2 separate regions of the Homo sapiens genome follow, and region 2 is linked to region 1. Evidence: fine-mapped expression QTL. A gene starts in region 1. The other region holds a variant in brackets. All regions are shown on one strand. Distances are between the middles of the regions.

What was found. PIP is the estimated chance that this variant, and not a neighbour inherited with it, causes the effect.
Region 2: its variant is the best candidate, but not a certain one, in a credible set for the expression of HAPLN1 in lung (GTEx, PIP 0.86).

What each region holds. Positions count from the first base shown.
Region 1 is chr5:83,716,813-83,725,165 of GRCh38, forward strand. It overlaps HAPLN1 (hyaluronan and proteoglycan link protein 1), which reads right to left and starts at 4,043. Exons shown (of 5, transcript NM_001884.4): 1 at 3,977-4,043. RefSeq lists a silencer at 5,628-5,687.
Region 2 is chr5:83,689,410-83,697,762 of GRCh38, forward strand. The region is part of intron 1 of HAPLN1 (hyaluronan and proteoglycan link protein 1); the gene reads right to left. Among named protein-coding and RNA genes, the nearest start is that of HAPLN1, 27 kb to the right of the region's middle. The variant A/G (reference allele first, on the strand shown) is at 5,067.

The DNA of each region.
Region 1 (8,353 bases):
CCTGAGGTCAGGAGTTCGAGACCAACCTGGCCAACATGGTGAAACCCTGTCTCTACTAAAAATACAAAAATTAGCCGGGCATGGTGACACATGCTTGTAGTCCCAGCTACTCGAGAGGCTGAGGCAGGGGAATCGCTTGAACCTGGGGAGTGGTGGTTGCAGTGAGCCAAGATCACGCCATTGTACTCCAGCCTGGGTGACAGAGCAAGACTCCATCTCAAGGAAAAAAAAACAAAAACTAGAAAAGTTATGATTAAACTTCTACTTTAAGGACCTCTGACTTTTAGGCAGTCTCTCACTAGCTCTCTCACTAGAATGAGTATGCAATTCATTCTAAATCACAAGGATGATCCAATGAAATTATTAACAGAATGTGTTTTTTTCCTGGTAGATAATGATCTACTGGAAATAAAGATTAAGATAATCTGCTTTATTTTATATAATTGATGATGCTAATTCCAAACAGTACCTCCAATCAGCACAGGTTATAATTTTGTGATATTAATGAAAAACAACTTAATGAGCGGGTCTCCTTCTTTCACTGTGTAGGTTTCCCTGCCATACAAAAACCAAACTCTTCCAAAGAGGAAACTTCCATTCCACAACAGCACGCCTAACTCTATTTTTGGATTACACCTACAAAGCTCCCCAAGTAACAAATTCATCATTTTTTTCTACTGAGGCATTTTACCTTCCTATATGAATTTCACAACTTGTATTGATTAATGCTGATTGTCCTGATCACTGTTGCAATTGTCACATAACTTGCAAAGAGCCAGTTGGAGTGATAATTCGTATATCTTTTAAAGAAAAGGTTTTTAAAGCTCTCAGTGCAATACTCAAATGGACTAATCTTCTATGGTATCTTAATGCTTCCTTCAAGTGGTGGTTTTCCATGTAATTGTTTTTGTCTAGAATTTTTTTTCTATTAGATCAACTTCATGGAAGCCAGGTTCCTGCTTCAAAACTCCAAGTGAACAACAAGTATAGATGAAGTTGTTTTACATGCTAATTATTAGTGTTTGAGAGCAATATTTTATAAAATAGACCTCATTACTCAAAAACAACTTGTACTACTATCCTTTCCAATTTAATAAAAAAATCAAAGAATATGAAACAAAATGTGCAGCTGTGTGGTAACCTTTTAAGCTAGTAGTTATTTTCCCAACTAAATTCAGTAACATTAAACCTTAGAGAAATTTATTTCTATTTCAGGAACAGTGATTTAAGATGGTCAAACTCTTTCCACCAGTCCTTGAACAATTCCATGACCTGTCTGTCTAAAACAAATCCTATATTAGAAGTGAGTTGCAGTTATTAAGCTATATCCTTGTGGAGGCGGAAAGTTAATGGTAAAGTATCCAACAAAGAGTAAAGTGATCTTAAATACAACCAGTAGGGATTTCATAAACTGTTTAGTTGTACCTTAATTTTTAACTTATATAAACATCACTTGCTTTAGTTTCTACCCTGAGCACCTATCCCAATGTCTGGCGTGTAGTTAATGTTCAACAAACGTCAACCGAGGGAGTCAGAGTATTTTAAGAAGCCGGTGAGAAAGCCTTCTTTGACTTATCCACTAGGTGGCACACAGGGACCATGCTTCACACAGTTAACCACCACAGACCCTCCCATTCAGTGTAAATAAAGAGATGCATTATTAATTTATACCACCTCGTCCTCTCTACTCCTAATAATTGTTTAACCAGCTGTTTCCTCTAATCCTCCTTAAACACTATTGATTAAAATCCTAAGTATATTCAGGTTTCCATCCTTTCCTACTTCTTCCAACAGCATTTTGCTACCTTTAAATGACAGGCTAAGTACACTTAAATGACATAGACTAAGTACTATGGTTACTACTCATGGCTGCAGGATGTCAGAAAATTAATTTGAAGCACTATCAAAATTATTTTCAAATTTGCCTGGTATTTCGTCAGAATTTTAACTGGTGAGAGATCATGATCTTAAAAATGCAATCTGAAAAATAAAATGTGCATGGGGCAAAAAGAAATGAAAAAGAAAACTAGTATTTTCTAAGGAAGGGAGTCATTTTCTGAATATAACTTTTGTTCATCTTTACAAAGATGAAGTGCATTGCTATCTTAAGATTCAAAGGACTTCTTCAACTGTTCAGAAAATACCAATATTCCACACCTAAGATGCTAAAAGGCAGGATTGTTTAGTAGACCGTTTACTCATAAAGTATCTTTCTGTGTACTCTGAATGTATTTATCCTGGATGTGTTACTTGCTCCCAAAGGAAGGAAAAGGAAGTGAAACCACTAGGGATATAATGAATTGATTCTTCTCTGTGAAAGTCTCTTCAGTACTTCTAAATTACAGTGTCAGTCATTCCTCTGAGAGACAGGGCCTTGCTGAAAATAAATGGCTCATTTTATAAATAAGTACATAATGTTTCCCCACCTTCTTGTTTCTCATAGAAAGCCCAGGCCCATAAGGCATTCCTGTCGAGAATACTGGCCTCTGGGTACATTCCTCCTGTAGAGCAGTGGTCTGTTGAGGTTGTTGGTTATCTCTTGTTCATTTAATTAGCCTTAAGTAAAATTACTTCTTATCTAGTTCTGTTTTTAAGCTGTTTCCAATTTAGTGGAAGAGGTCATCAACAAAAGTATAAATTCATTTCTTAGCTGAAACAATTAAATTTTTTAAAATGGGTGGTATAAAAGTGACTAAAGACTAAAGCTAATATCTGAAGAGTCCTTTGGTATACATTATATTTTACTGAATGGAAGAGAAACTTTCATTTTTGTAGGTAAATGGAATTTGTTAACTGATATAAGAATTATGAATCATATCACATTAAAAATTCTCCAAAGATAACTACTATGATATACTTTTGATAGAACAATATTCCCATTCCATTAAAATACTGAAATGACTGAAATGTGTATAAAATCTCTGCAAATTTAGTACACAGAAATAATCACATAGAAATAGTTACCAGAAACTACAATTGTAATGAATAAATATTACATTCATTTAGAAATCAATCCACAGCCTTAATTTCTTAAGAACTATTAGCTTCCAAGAAGCCAGCCAGTATGTTTGATTTTATGACATCACACTGGAACATGTACAGGAACACTTTCCACCCTAAAAATTCCCAAATGTACTGGCCACTGTGTGTATTTTTCCAGTGATAAATGAAAATAAAGCAACTTATTCTCAAATTAATAAGCCATCTTATTTTGAACACAACAGTCACATTCAATGGAAGAAAACTACTTAATCGAAGCCCAAACAAGTTTAGGTTTGTTTTTGGTGGGGAACAGTCTCAACATACAAATAATTTCTTTAAGCAACTTTTAACAGTAATCTTAACTATGACTATAAATTCTCTTCAGTGCATTCAAATTATCCATCAACATCATTGTATATATGAAATGCATCATCATTCTATGATCTTAAGTTCATAATTAGCTGGAGAAGGAAGCCTGGGCCAAAAATGGCAACATTTCTAAGATTATTAATCTAACAGGTATTACCTATGCCTAAAGTAACTTTCTTTTTCACATAACCCTATATATTCTCTGAAACAAAATTCATAAGCCTGGCTGGACATTCCCATTCCTCACCTTTCCCTTCAGCCTATACTATCCTTGTTTCATCTCAGGTGCTATAAAAATGGTTGTTGAGATACAGATAGAAAAGTCACCACTTGGAAACCATGACCCTACCAGATTTACAGGAGCACTAGCAGAAGCTAAGATACTAGAGTTAATTCTTTCTCCATTTTTAGACTGAGCCTGTTTATTGTAGTGAAATATTTTATCCGACAATATGAAACTTTTTTAAAAGTTGAGGTGTCATATTAAATTCAAATGAAAACTAAACTCAAAAGAAAAGAATAAAATTTGTTTAATGTATATATACATTGCATGTGTATTGCCCTCTGAAATCTTAAAGGCACAAAGGTATAACCAAAAGAGGGGGAAACAATTTGCAAGTTTTACCTTGTCCTGAAATCCAGGAGTTCGGATGCTCTCAAGTTCTGCTTAAGTTGGAAGCTGGAGATCAAGTGAAGCTAGCGCTCTTTCTCCTCACCTTAAGTTTGTCTCTGGGCGAGTGTGAGAGTGTGTGTGTGTGTGCGTGTGTGAGTGTGTGTGCAGAATGTCTCTTTGTGGCGCTGGATGGCAGAGGTCCTGATCCTGGGAAGAAGGAGGCACTTTCTCACCAAGAGCAGAAGAAAAGCAAAGCGTCACCAGGAAAGTTCTCCTCCCAAATCCCCTAATTACAGCCTAATGTGCACTTCATGCAAACTTCAGGGAGGAAGGGAGGGGCAGCTCTGTGCCCAGACCTTGTAAAGCAGCAGCCTCTTAGATGACTTTCCCCTCTGCTCAGATCCCGAGTATCCCGCTCTGGGGTTTAGGAAAGCCGGCCGCTACAGCCACACAAGCCCCCACCACACCACACCTCCCGAACCCGAACCCTCATCAGTCCTGGGTCTGTCCAGAAGGGATGGGACAAGGGGTCTGTGGAATGATCTGCGGGGCAGCGGTGTGAGCAGACTCCTCAGGACAGTCAGTTTGCGCTTTGTTTTATTAGCCTCTGCTTAAAAGAAAAATCCAAGGGTCGGAGAGGTCCTCTCTTTCCCGCCTTCCCCTCACCAAAGGAGATCAAGGATAACAGACAATGATGATAGTGGCACATAAAGCTTCTTAAACTGGAGATGGCCTTCCACCCAAATCACCAGAAGCATATTTTCTGGTTTACTGGACTCAGTATTGGTGTTGAGTTTAAATTTCTCTTAACAAACAACTGCTATTGTATCCTTGGATGACAGAGCTCAAAGAACCTGGATTTATTTATAGAACGAGGAATGCGAGGGGGAGACGGGATGGGTGGGGTTGGGTTGTGGATCCATAACCAGGATTAGAACCAGATGGGCACAGGGCGCGCGCGCGCACACACACACACACACACACACACACACACACACACAGACACACACACCCCTGAAATAACCAGTGGGGAAGATGCTGGGACACGCGGGAAAACGCCTCCTGAACAAATAGACGTTTATTTATAACTTCTGGGAGAGTATATAGGTCCATTGATTCCCGCCTTGAGTAACCAAGGGTTTTGGAGAGGAAATGGCTTCATATTTCAATAACAGAGCCACCTTTGATGGAGTCTAGGAAGGGGAAAAAAGAAACACACCGCAGGAAGCAAACGGCTGTTGGAGCAGCCGGGAGGAGGGAGCGGGGCTGGCCCTGGGACTGAGGACAAGCAAACAAGCTCGAGGGGCCCGCGGCCAGGGTGGAGGCGAGACGCAGGCCGTCCCCGAGTTGCAGCGAGCAGGGCCCGGTGTCGCGGAGCGCTGGGGACGTGCGGGGATTCGCGGCCGTGCTCCCGGCTCCAACCTCCGGCCCCGGCGGGGCGGCGCGGGCGGGACTGCGGGCTTCTTAAGGCCGCCGCCGCCGCTCGGGCTGTGGCGCGGGTTGGGGAGAGGGTTCCGTGGGCCGTAGGGACTGAGGGAGTCGTAAGTCGATGAGCTAGTGGGGCAGGAGGATGGGCGGGTCCAGGGCGTCCTGGAGGTGCAAGGTGGGATGGGAGGACCTGAGGGGCAGCCAAGCTGCTGGGGAAGCCGCCGGGACGGGGGCTCTGGCCGACAATGCAGGTGGCCGGTGTGCAGATGAGCCAGCGCGCGGGGTGCGGCCGCCGGGATGCCCGATCCGAGTCGCGCGGGTGGCGGCGAGCGGCGCTATTGTCTTAAAGATAAAGCCTAAGCCACGGGGACTGCCTCCTCCTGGACTCTGGAGAGAGGCGGGAGAGATTGCAGGGGAAAAAAGGCTTCTTCCCGCGTCTTCTGAGAGATTTCACCAGTTCTTGCCTCTGGGCTCCCCCTTGCCATTCTGTCTTTGGTAAATCAACACGTGCCTCTTGGAAAGGTTTCATTTCAAAGACAAACGGAACACTCACACACCCTCCCTAAATGAAGACAGTTATATTCAAAATGAATTCTTCATCAGGCGTTCAACACCTTTCTTGGAATTCCAAAACCTGGGTGAGGGCGCTTCTCTTATTTTTCTGTTTCCCCTCCCGCACAGGGAACAGGTTTTGCAGTTTTATGTCCCTAATCTAGTGGCTATTGAGGCAGCTGTTATATAGGCCTCTACATTAACTGCCAATAAAAATAAGATACATCTCGGCTTTTCAACTATGCAAAGGGTTTTTATGCTATTCATATTTCTTGTAAACGTTCAGGGTGGTGTGTATTTTAAAGAACATAAACGAATTAGACTTATAAACAAATATCCAATTTTTATATTAAAGCACCATAAAGGTGGTAAGGCTGGTGGTGTGTGGCTATGATATCATATAAAGACAGTTTAAATACCGATCTTGTTCCCTCAGCTTAACAACCTAATTTCTGGCGATTGCCTGGAGCGTAAATCAAATCAGCTGGCTCATGGCTGGCACTTGTTCCCCTATTTTGTGGTCTGCTCTATACACTTATTCCGGCACAACATTAAGATAATTTAATGTATTCTCTTCTGAAATTGTTTAATAACCACCCAAGACAATCTATTTTGCAACTTAGTCACACCATGGTGAGCTACACTAGATTTTTTTTCAATCTCAGGTATAGCCGCAACTATTGAGATAGACTTCCAGAAATAATGACAGGTACTTACCTCTGAGTCATCCTGTCCCTCCTGATCCTCCCCTATTTCCAGCCTTCCCTTCCCCATTGCCTCCTTACTAGTCTTTGTTAAAGATCCCCAGTCTTTTTAATCACAAATATTTAACCTATCAATAGTGTGTATTTGAAGTGTTATTCAGGCTTAATTTAATTGACGTTATATACATTTTTCCATTCGTTTTGGGGTTCACATGGTTTTCTAGTTATTTAAATTTACATTGGAATTAGCTTTAAGAGTCTTTTAAAAAGATTTTTATGTTCAGTTAATTAATGTTCAGCCAAATTGTGCTTTATGGAGGCATACATTACTTTGATTAGCCCTTATAGTTTTTCATCAGGGCACAGGCATTATAATAAGCCATGGTAAAAAATCAAATCAAGTAAATGCAGGAATAAATACAACTCTATTTTCATGACTAAATATTTTACAAAGATATAAATTGTAAAAATAATTTTTGAAGACCAAAATATCTTCTTAAAGAAAACCATATCAAAAAAGTATTCTGTATTTGAAGATTTCCTGTATTTATTAACATTAGTAAGTCATGTGGAAATTCAAATCTTTCCTTTGTTAAATCAAGGTTAGCCTAAAGCTGTCTTCTTACATATTTTAAGTTTGGCCTAAAGGTTTCTCTGTACATTGTGAACTATAACCTGAATGGAATTGTAAACAGACTGTAGCCTGCTCTTGTGGCAACACTGAGCTTTGGCCAATCACATGTGGCCAACTGTTCAAACCCTGTTCAAATAAGGCAAAGGTGGAGCTATAACCAGTCCGGGGGTTTCTGTACCTCACTTTCCTTTTTCTGCCCATAAACCTTCTACCACGTGGCTGTGTTGGAGTTTCTGAGCCTGCTCTGCCTCTGGAGACTGTTGGAATTGTTCTTTGCTTAATCAAACTCTTTTAAATTTAGTTTTGCTAAAGTTTTTTTTTTCCCTAACACATAGCATATTGAGGTTTGTTTTATTTGCTTTTTTAATTTAGAGAAGGCAAATAAGCCATTTTTTTAAGTTTCAAGAAAAACCAAACTTTTTTTTATTTTTCAATAATATATTTTGAACTATTTCTCATTCTTATTAAATAATCTGATGTTAAACAATATTATTTCAAAATATGCTGATGTATTTATATTATATAAAATTATATATCAAAATATTCTATATATAATATATACAGCATATTTTGAAATGATGTTTAATGTAATACAACAGTATTTTATAAGAATGAAAAACAGGTTAAAAAATGGTGTTATAAAATGTAACTTTGCATTCTTTTGCTAATTGTAACACAATTTGAGTAATTAGGTTGAACCAGATAAAATGGAATATTCAACCTTTTTTGACCTACCAAAAAGCAATTTCAGCTGGTTTCACCTTATACAAATTTGAATATGTGTGTAGCATAAGTGTAGCAGGAACATTTTCAACTTTTAAAAAAATATTGATCTGCAATATCATGAATATTTAATATGTAATAAATTCCCAAGCAGAATAGTATGCCTGCTGGCATATTACACTCGTAACAAAATATACATTTATATTCAAAAGGGGATTATCTAAATTCATCTCCTCTTCAAACTCCAAAAGAGGCTGCTGTTATCCACTAAATTCCAGAGAATTGCTTCCCTCTGAGCACTTGTTTCCTGGAATTTTTGCCTCAGGCTGACATTATATCTGATTGAAC
Region 2 (8,353 bases), 27 kb before region 1:
GCAGCTACATAAATGAACATTTTCATTAATAAAAGGCCTTATAACTGAACTACAACTTTTTTTTCACTCCCCAGACAAGAAGAATACAAGGGAAAAAGGAGTCTCTGGAAGGGAATTAGAGTGCCCACAAAACCAACTTCAATAACTTCACTATTTTGCCTGGGGCAGGCTGCAGTGGAATGATAATATCAAGGGCACATATGGGGTGATTTTAGACTTGACAGTGAAATCAAATGTGCAGAATAGGCTAAATAATGGCCAATTTTCTCAGAAAGGGAGAGATTTTTTTATTTACTACATACCCCCAGTTATTTAAAATTTATTATACAGTGATTTTACTATAGAAGTTTGTGTGTGTGTGCATGCACCTATAAAAGTAAACAAATCAGATAGTTTACACACACATGCCCCAAATTAATGGCTAATTCTAAACCCAAATATATAAACTTAAAATTTTTTCATTGGATTTATATAGAATTTTTCCTTCTGAAGGGTCAGAGATAGGAAATTTTATATGAACAAACAAAATATCTCATTGCTATTCATTCTTTCTTAGCTTCAAAGCTAAAGAGCTAATGTTATTTTACATTTACAGTATTATTAGTGCACTGCTTTCTTCAAAGAGCTATTTTCTGGAAGACCACCCAGAAGTTTCAACTAATTGAGGAGGCAATCTTCAGTTTACTTAAATAGGAAGGCTACGTGGGACACATTCCTGGCATCAGTACTCCTCTGTCATATCTGTTTGTGCTGGATATAATGCAAAGGACAATGTTAAATTCTGAAAATACCCTAGACTGTTTCCCCCCATCAAACAACCAAAGCAAAAAATAGTTAATTTCTGATACCTTTTTCAGAAAGATTGTTTTATAATCTGGGCTTTGAAAATTCCAGGAAAAATGAGCCACCCAAGGCGATCATAAAAGCCAAAGTTACAGATGTAGAAACAGGTTTTTTAGTAGTGTGATGTATTTCTGAGATTGTTGAAAGTGTAAGATGTTATTTGAAGTGGCACAGAATTAGCTGTTTGGTCACGGGAGAAACATCTGTAAATGGGAACTAAAAGGTTTTATGAACAATTCTTTGAGAAATATGTTGGAATCTAGAATAAGTAAGATTGGGGTAATTTATATGTGGAGATATGTTAATTCTATTTTCACAGATTTCATTGTAACATGCTATGGTTTATTAAATGGGTTTTATATATTTAAAGAGTCACATATTTTTCTTTTCAGATAAGGCCTTTCCATTTTTATCTGCTAATTTATGAATTTGCGCACCCCTGATTTTCTCTTCCTTAGGGAAAAAAATATCTGACATAATTTCAATATTGTTAAAGACATTGAAAACTATTTATATGGTGATTATATATTCAGGCATATTATTATGATCAATTACCAAATCTAGTCCTTTAATACTATCCTGAGTATTTTATTAAAATAAGTCGCATATTTTTATTAGTTTTATATGAATGCATGTGTTATTTTAGAGAAACTAGAAAAATGAAGAAAAGCAAAACTATGAAAATAAAACCACCTAGGACTTCTGTTTCTGATCAAGATGAAGTAAGATGAGCAGTATTTACTCTTCTGTCTCAAACAACTAAAAAGATAATGGACAAAATACAGAAAAAACCAGACACTCAAGATATTGGACATCAGGCAAAGAACAGTAACTTCTGATTATTAGAAAACAAATGAGGTGAGTCATATAATTTATTGCCGAAAGAAAGTTTTCATACAGTACAGGAAGAAGGAACCTACCTAGAGCCTGTTCAAAAACTTGAGCTGAGGCGTTGAGAGCCAAGAGTTCTGAAAATTGACGGTTCCTAGAGGTTGCAAGGCAGAATAATAGAAATGAGAGGAAAGGAGAGAGTGACACAGAGTTAACTTAGGATGTTTAGAGTTTTCTCCTAGAATATTCAGTTAAGGACTGACCAGTGCATATGTGTGAGAAATCTATCCAAGTCTAAGGAAAAAATGATCCTAAAGGATTAGTCTTCACCCAGCACTGGAATAGCACCTGTTTCCAACAGGCAGTCTAAAAAGCCTCATAATTCTTGGAGAAGGTTTAAAATCTTAAGATGAATCTTTACTCGCTAGTGGAGGGAAAAGTAATACTAAACTTAAGACAGCTCTAGGACCACCTAACAAAATTTAAAAGAGTGACCTGAAAGAATCAAACTGTTTCTAAGTACCTTAACCATATCTCTGAACAACGTATAGTAATATTTGTAGGAATAAGTAGTATCCAGCCTTAATTAAACAAGGTAAAATTTAAAACATACGGAATCCAACAGAAAGCTACTGGGCTTACAAAGAAGCAGGGCATACCAATAATAATAGTAATAATAATAATAAAGAGAAAACTTAGTCAATGGGCAGACCCAGAAATTATAAAAATGATAGTAGATACGGATGATAGAAACAGTAGATAAGAACATTAAAATGCTATTATATCTATATTTCAAATGTTCAAGAAGCTAGAAGAATTATTGAATATGTTACATATAGAGGCATGAAAAAGACATTTACAACCAGCCTATATAAAACATTTAGAGATGAAAATGACATTGTCTAAGATAAAAAAAAATTGAATGGGATTAATGGCAGGTTAAACAATTCAGGATAAAAGATGAGTGAAGTTGAAGATGTTGCAATAATCAAAACTGTCCAAAATGAAGCAGGGAGAAGAAAAATGACTGAAAACTAAAAAGGAAAAGAGCATCACTAAACTGTGGGACAACTTAAGTGGCCAAAACATACGTAATTGGAGTCTCCAAAAGAGAGAAGGGGCAGAAAAAAATTTGAAGAAGTAATGACTGAAAACTTTCAAATTTGATAAAAATTACAAACTTACAGACCCAAGAATTTCAGCAAATATTCTAGCACAAGAAACATGCAGAAAATTAAACCAAAACCCTCAATAATGAAACTGCTTAAAACCAGTGGTAAAGAGAAAATCTGAAAGAAAGGAAGAAAAAGACCCATTATTCACAGAGGAATAAAGGTAAAGATGAAGGCTGATTTCTTGTCTGAGACAAAGCAAGCAAGAAGACTGTGGAATGAGATCTTTAAAGTACTGAAAGAAAACTGTCCACCTAGAATTCTTTACTCTGCAAAAATATGTCTCATAGACAAAGGCAAATAAAGACTTTGTTAGACATACAAAGCTAAAATAATTCATCAATAGCCTACACAGAAATAAATATTTAAGAAACTTCTTCATGCAGAAGAAAAATGATAACAGTTGGTAAACTGGATTTATGCAAAGAATGAAGAGCACTGACTATACTAACTATAAGTAAGCACATTTTTCTCATTATGTAAATGTTTTTCAAAGATAATTGAAACCTTAAGGTAAAAATGATATGAATGTACGGTGGGGTTTTATATTTAGAAGCAAAATGCATGACAACTGCATAACAACATTTGTACAAAGACCATGTCTAAGGGTAATAGAAATATGTCATTGGAAGGTTCTTATATTAATACTTTACATGAAGTATAGTAGTCCCCCTTATCTTCAAGGGATACATTCTAAGACACCCAGTGGATGTTTGAAACTGTGGATAGTACCAAATCTTACATATGTTGTGTTTTTTCCTCTGCACACATACCTATGATAAAATTTAATTTATAAATTAGGCACAGTAAGAAATTAACAATAATAAAATGGAGCAATTATAACAATATACTGTCATAAAAGTTATATGAGTATGGCCTCTCTCTCTCAAAATATTTTGTTTTACTATACTCACCTCTTTTCTGACTGTCATTGACTGCTGGTAACTGAAGCCAAAGAAAATAAAATTGCAGATATGAGCAGGACTACTGTAGTAAAATATCACCTGAAAATAGACTGTGAAAAGTTAAGGTATATACTATAAAACCTAAAGCAGCCAGTAGAAATGTAAACAAAGACTCATAACTAATAAACCGACAAAGGAGACAGAATGGAATTTTTGGAAAATATTCAAATTATTTCAAAAGAAGATAGAAAAAGAAGAGGGAAGAGAATGAAGAACAGAAGAGGCAAATAGAAAAATTAGCAAGATAGTGGATTCAGAGCCAAGCATATCAATATTTTAATTAAGGGTAAATCATCTATAAACCTCCATTGAAAGGCAGAGATTGTCAGGTTGGATTTAAAAGAACCACTATATGTTTTTTAAGATAATCTAAATAAGAAAGACAAGAATATATGACAAGTAAAAGGATGGGAAAATACATAATATGCTAACACTAACCAAAAGGGAGATAGAGACACTATATTAAAATCAGACAAAATAGATTTCAGGATAAAAAATATCAGCAGGGGAAAAGAGAGCAATTTCATAATGATAAAGTGTCCAATTATCAGGAGAACATTACAACATTAAAAATGTATGCTTCTAATAACAGAGGTTCAAAAATACCTGAAGCAAAATGATATAGAATTGTAAAATATTAGAGCATCCCTTTATCAACAATTGATGGAACAAGTAAGCAGAAAAATCAGAAAATATATAGAAGACTTGAATACTGTAAACCAACCTCACCTAATTAATATTTATAAAATGTTCTACTCAACAAGAGCAAGTACACATTCTTTTCAAATGCATACCAACCACTTACCAAGATAAACTATATTCTGGGTCATAAGACAATTCTCAAGAAATGTAAAAGGATTTACGTGAGGCAAAATATATTCCCTAAGTATAGAATTAAGGTAGAAATCAAAAACAAAAAGATATGTGGAATACTTCTATCTATTTGGAAACTAAAGCACAAAATTTTAAATAACCCAAGGGTCAGTGAAAAAATCAAAAGGGCTATTAAAATTATTTTAAACTGAATAAAAATTAAAACATAGCATATCAAAATCTCTGGGATGCAGTGAAGCAATACTTAGTTTAGAAAGTATTCCCCTAAACACGTATTAGAGAAGAAAAGTTTCAAATCAATGACTTCAGATTCCACATTAAGAAACTAGAAAAAGAAGAGAATATGAAACCCAATGTAAGCAGAACAAAAAAATAATAATATCAGAGTAAAATAAGTAAAAACAAAAGATGGTTCTTTGAA[A/G]AGATCAATATAATTCATAAATCTCTATACAAGCTAATCTGATAAAATATAAAAGATATGAATTATCAATATAATGAATGAAGTAGATAATATCTATCAATTCTATAGAAATAAACAATAAGAAAATATTATGAAACTTTGTTTTAATAAATTCAGTGAGTTAAATGAAATGGTGAAATTCTTTGAAAGATAAAAATTGCCACCACTCACACAAGAAACAAATAGCCTGAATGCCCTATATCTATTTTTTAAAAATCAAATTTTTAGTTTAAAAATTCCCATGAATAACAACAAAAATGAACAAAAAAATAAACAAAACCAATTCCAGGCCTGGGTGACTTCACGGAATTTCACCAAACATTTAAAGAAGAAATAATATCAACTTTACACAAACTCTTAGATTAAATTGAAGAGGAGAGAATATTTCCCAATTTATTCTATGAGGCTAGCATTATTTCAATACCAAAATCAGACAAAAACATTTCAAGAAAAGTAGATTACAAATCAATTACCCTTCACAAACATAAACGTAAAAATTTTAACAAAATTTTAGCAAATCTAATCCAAAAAGATATAAAATGGATTAATACAAAATGGGGTTTATCCCAGAAATTTAAGGTTTTCTTTATATTAGAAAATCAATGTAATTCATTATACATATATTTTTGAAATGGAGTCTCACTCTTGTCACCCAGGCTGGGGTGCAGTGGCGCAATCTCGGCTCACTGCAACTTCTGCCTCCTGGGTTCAAACAATTCTCCTGCCTCAGCCTCCCGAGTAGCTGGGATTACAGGCACATGCCACCACGCCCAGCTAATTTTTGTATTTTTAGTAGAGATGGGGTTTCGCCATGTTGGCCAGGCTGGTCTCGAACTCCTGACCTCAGGAGATCTACCTGCCTCGGCCTCCCAAAGTGCTGGGATTACAGGTGTGAGCCACCACACCCAGCCATAATTCATTACATTAAGAGATAGAAAGACAGACACAACAATCAATCGATTGCTCAACAGATAAAACAGATAGATCACTAAATAGATTTATATATATATACATATTTAGTGTATCTATTTTCCTGTATCTATTGAGATGTTTATATAAATATATATAGAGATAAATATATATCTATATAGATATCTATAGATATATATCTATATAGATAAATATATTTATATATAGATAAATATATATCTATATGTATTTATATAAACATCTCAATAGATACAGGAAAAGTATTTCACATAATCCAACATCCACTCCAACTAAAAACTCTTAATAAAGGAATAAAAAGGAACTTCCTCAATCTGATAAAGGGCATCTATGTTCAACCCACAGCTAACATCATACTTAATGGTAAAAGACTAAATTATTTATTCCTAAAACCAGAAAAAAGGCAAGCATTTACGTTTTTACCATTTACTTTAAACATCCTAGTGGAGGTTCCCAGAGAGTGGAATTAAGGCAAGAAAAAGAAATAGAAGTCAAACAGATTGGAAAGGAAGAATTAAAACTTTTTATTTACAGATAACATGACAGTCTACACAGAAAAATCATAAAAAGTCTACAAAAAAGCTACTGTAACATATAAACTAAGTTTAAAAGTTGCTGGATATATGATCCATGTGCAAACATCATTATATTTTTATACACTGGCAATGAATAATCAAAAATTGAAATTTAAAGAATACCATATACCAAAGCATAAAAATATTTAGGGAAAAATAGCCAACAAATATGCAAATTGTACTCTGAAAGTTAAAAAACATGTTCAGATAAATTAAATGAGACATAAATAAATGGCAAGATATGGTATTTTCATAAAACAGGCTCAATATTATTAAGAGATTCAGTCTTCCCAAGCTGACCCATAAATTCAATGCATTCAAATCAAAATTTTAGCCCACATTTGGTAGAAAGGTACAAGGTAATTTTAACATTCATATGTAAATGTAAATTCCCTGGAATAGCCAAAATGTTTTAGAAAAGGAATTTACAAAAGAAAGAACAAAGTTGAAAGCACAAAGAGTTGTGCTACCTGACTTTAAGATTTATAATAAAGTTATAGTAATTAAGAGAGTATGGTATTTGCAATGTGGTATACAAAAAGATCAGATACAAAATTTTAAAAAGAATTTCATTCATATGGCCAAACTGCTCTTCAGAAAAGTTCTCAAGTTTTATTTCTACCAATAGATTGAATAAAGAAAATACTCTTGCCTGTGTATAATTTTAAATATATACATTTGATAGACAAAAATTTGGTAGGCTTATGTTTGTATTAATTTTCTTTGCTCTAATTACAAATGACATAAAAAAATTTTGTCCATGCTCATCAGTCACTTACATTTCTCCTTTTGTGAATTGCCATATTTTAACTGTTGCCTATTAGTTGTTACTGAGTTTTGAAACATTAAAAAACTAATGTAATTTGTATATCATAAAATGCACTCTTTAAGCATACAGTGCAGTGGTTTTTAGTACATTCCTCAAGTTGTGCAACCATTACCACTACCTGTTTCCAGAACATTTCCATCACCCGTAAAAGAAACTGTGTACCTATGAGCTGTTATTCCCTATTCCCTCCCCCACCAGGATTCCTGGCAAACACTAATCTACTTTCTGTCTCTATGGATGCCATTCTAAATGATTCTAAATGATTCAATGAATTCAATGACTTCAATGAATTTAATGATTCAATGAATATTCAATGAATATTCTAGATGATTCAATGAGTCTATTCTAGATGATTCAACAAATCATCTAGAATAGGCAAATTCATAGAGACAGATGTATTGACTGATGTAAATTGAATCATATAATTTGTGGTCCTTTTATGCCTGGCTTCTTTCACTTAGCGTAATGTTTTCAATGTTCATTCTGTAGCAAGTATCAGTACTTCATTCTTTTTATGTGTGAATACTATTCCATTCCACCTATATAGATACCACATTTTATTTATCTGTTCATCAGTTGATGGACAATTGAGTTATTTCCACTTTTGGGCTTTAATGAATAATGCTGCTATTAACACCCATGCACAAGTTTTTGTATGAACATATTTTTTGAATTCTGGGCCTTATCTACCAAGCGATGGAATATGGTAACTATATGTTGAGCTCTTTGAGAAACTGCCAAACTGTATTCCAAAGCACGGCACTGTTTTATGTTCATGCAACCATGCATGAGGGTTCCAATTTCTCCACTCTCCACATCCTCACTGACACTTATTATTGTATGCCTTTTTCATTATAGCCATCCTAGTGGGTATGAAGTGATATCTCATTAGGGGT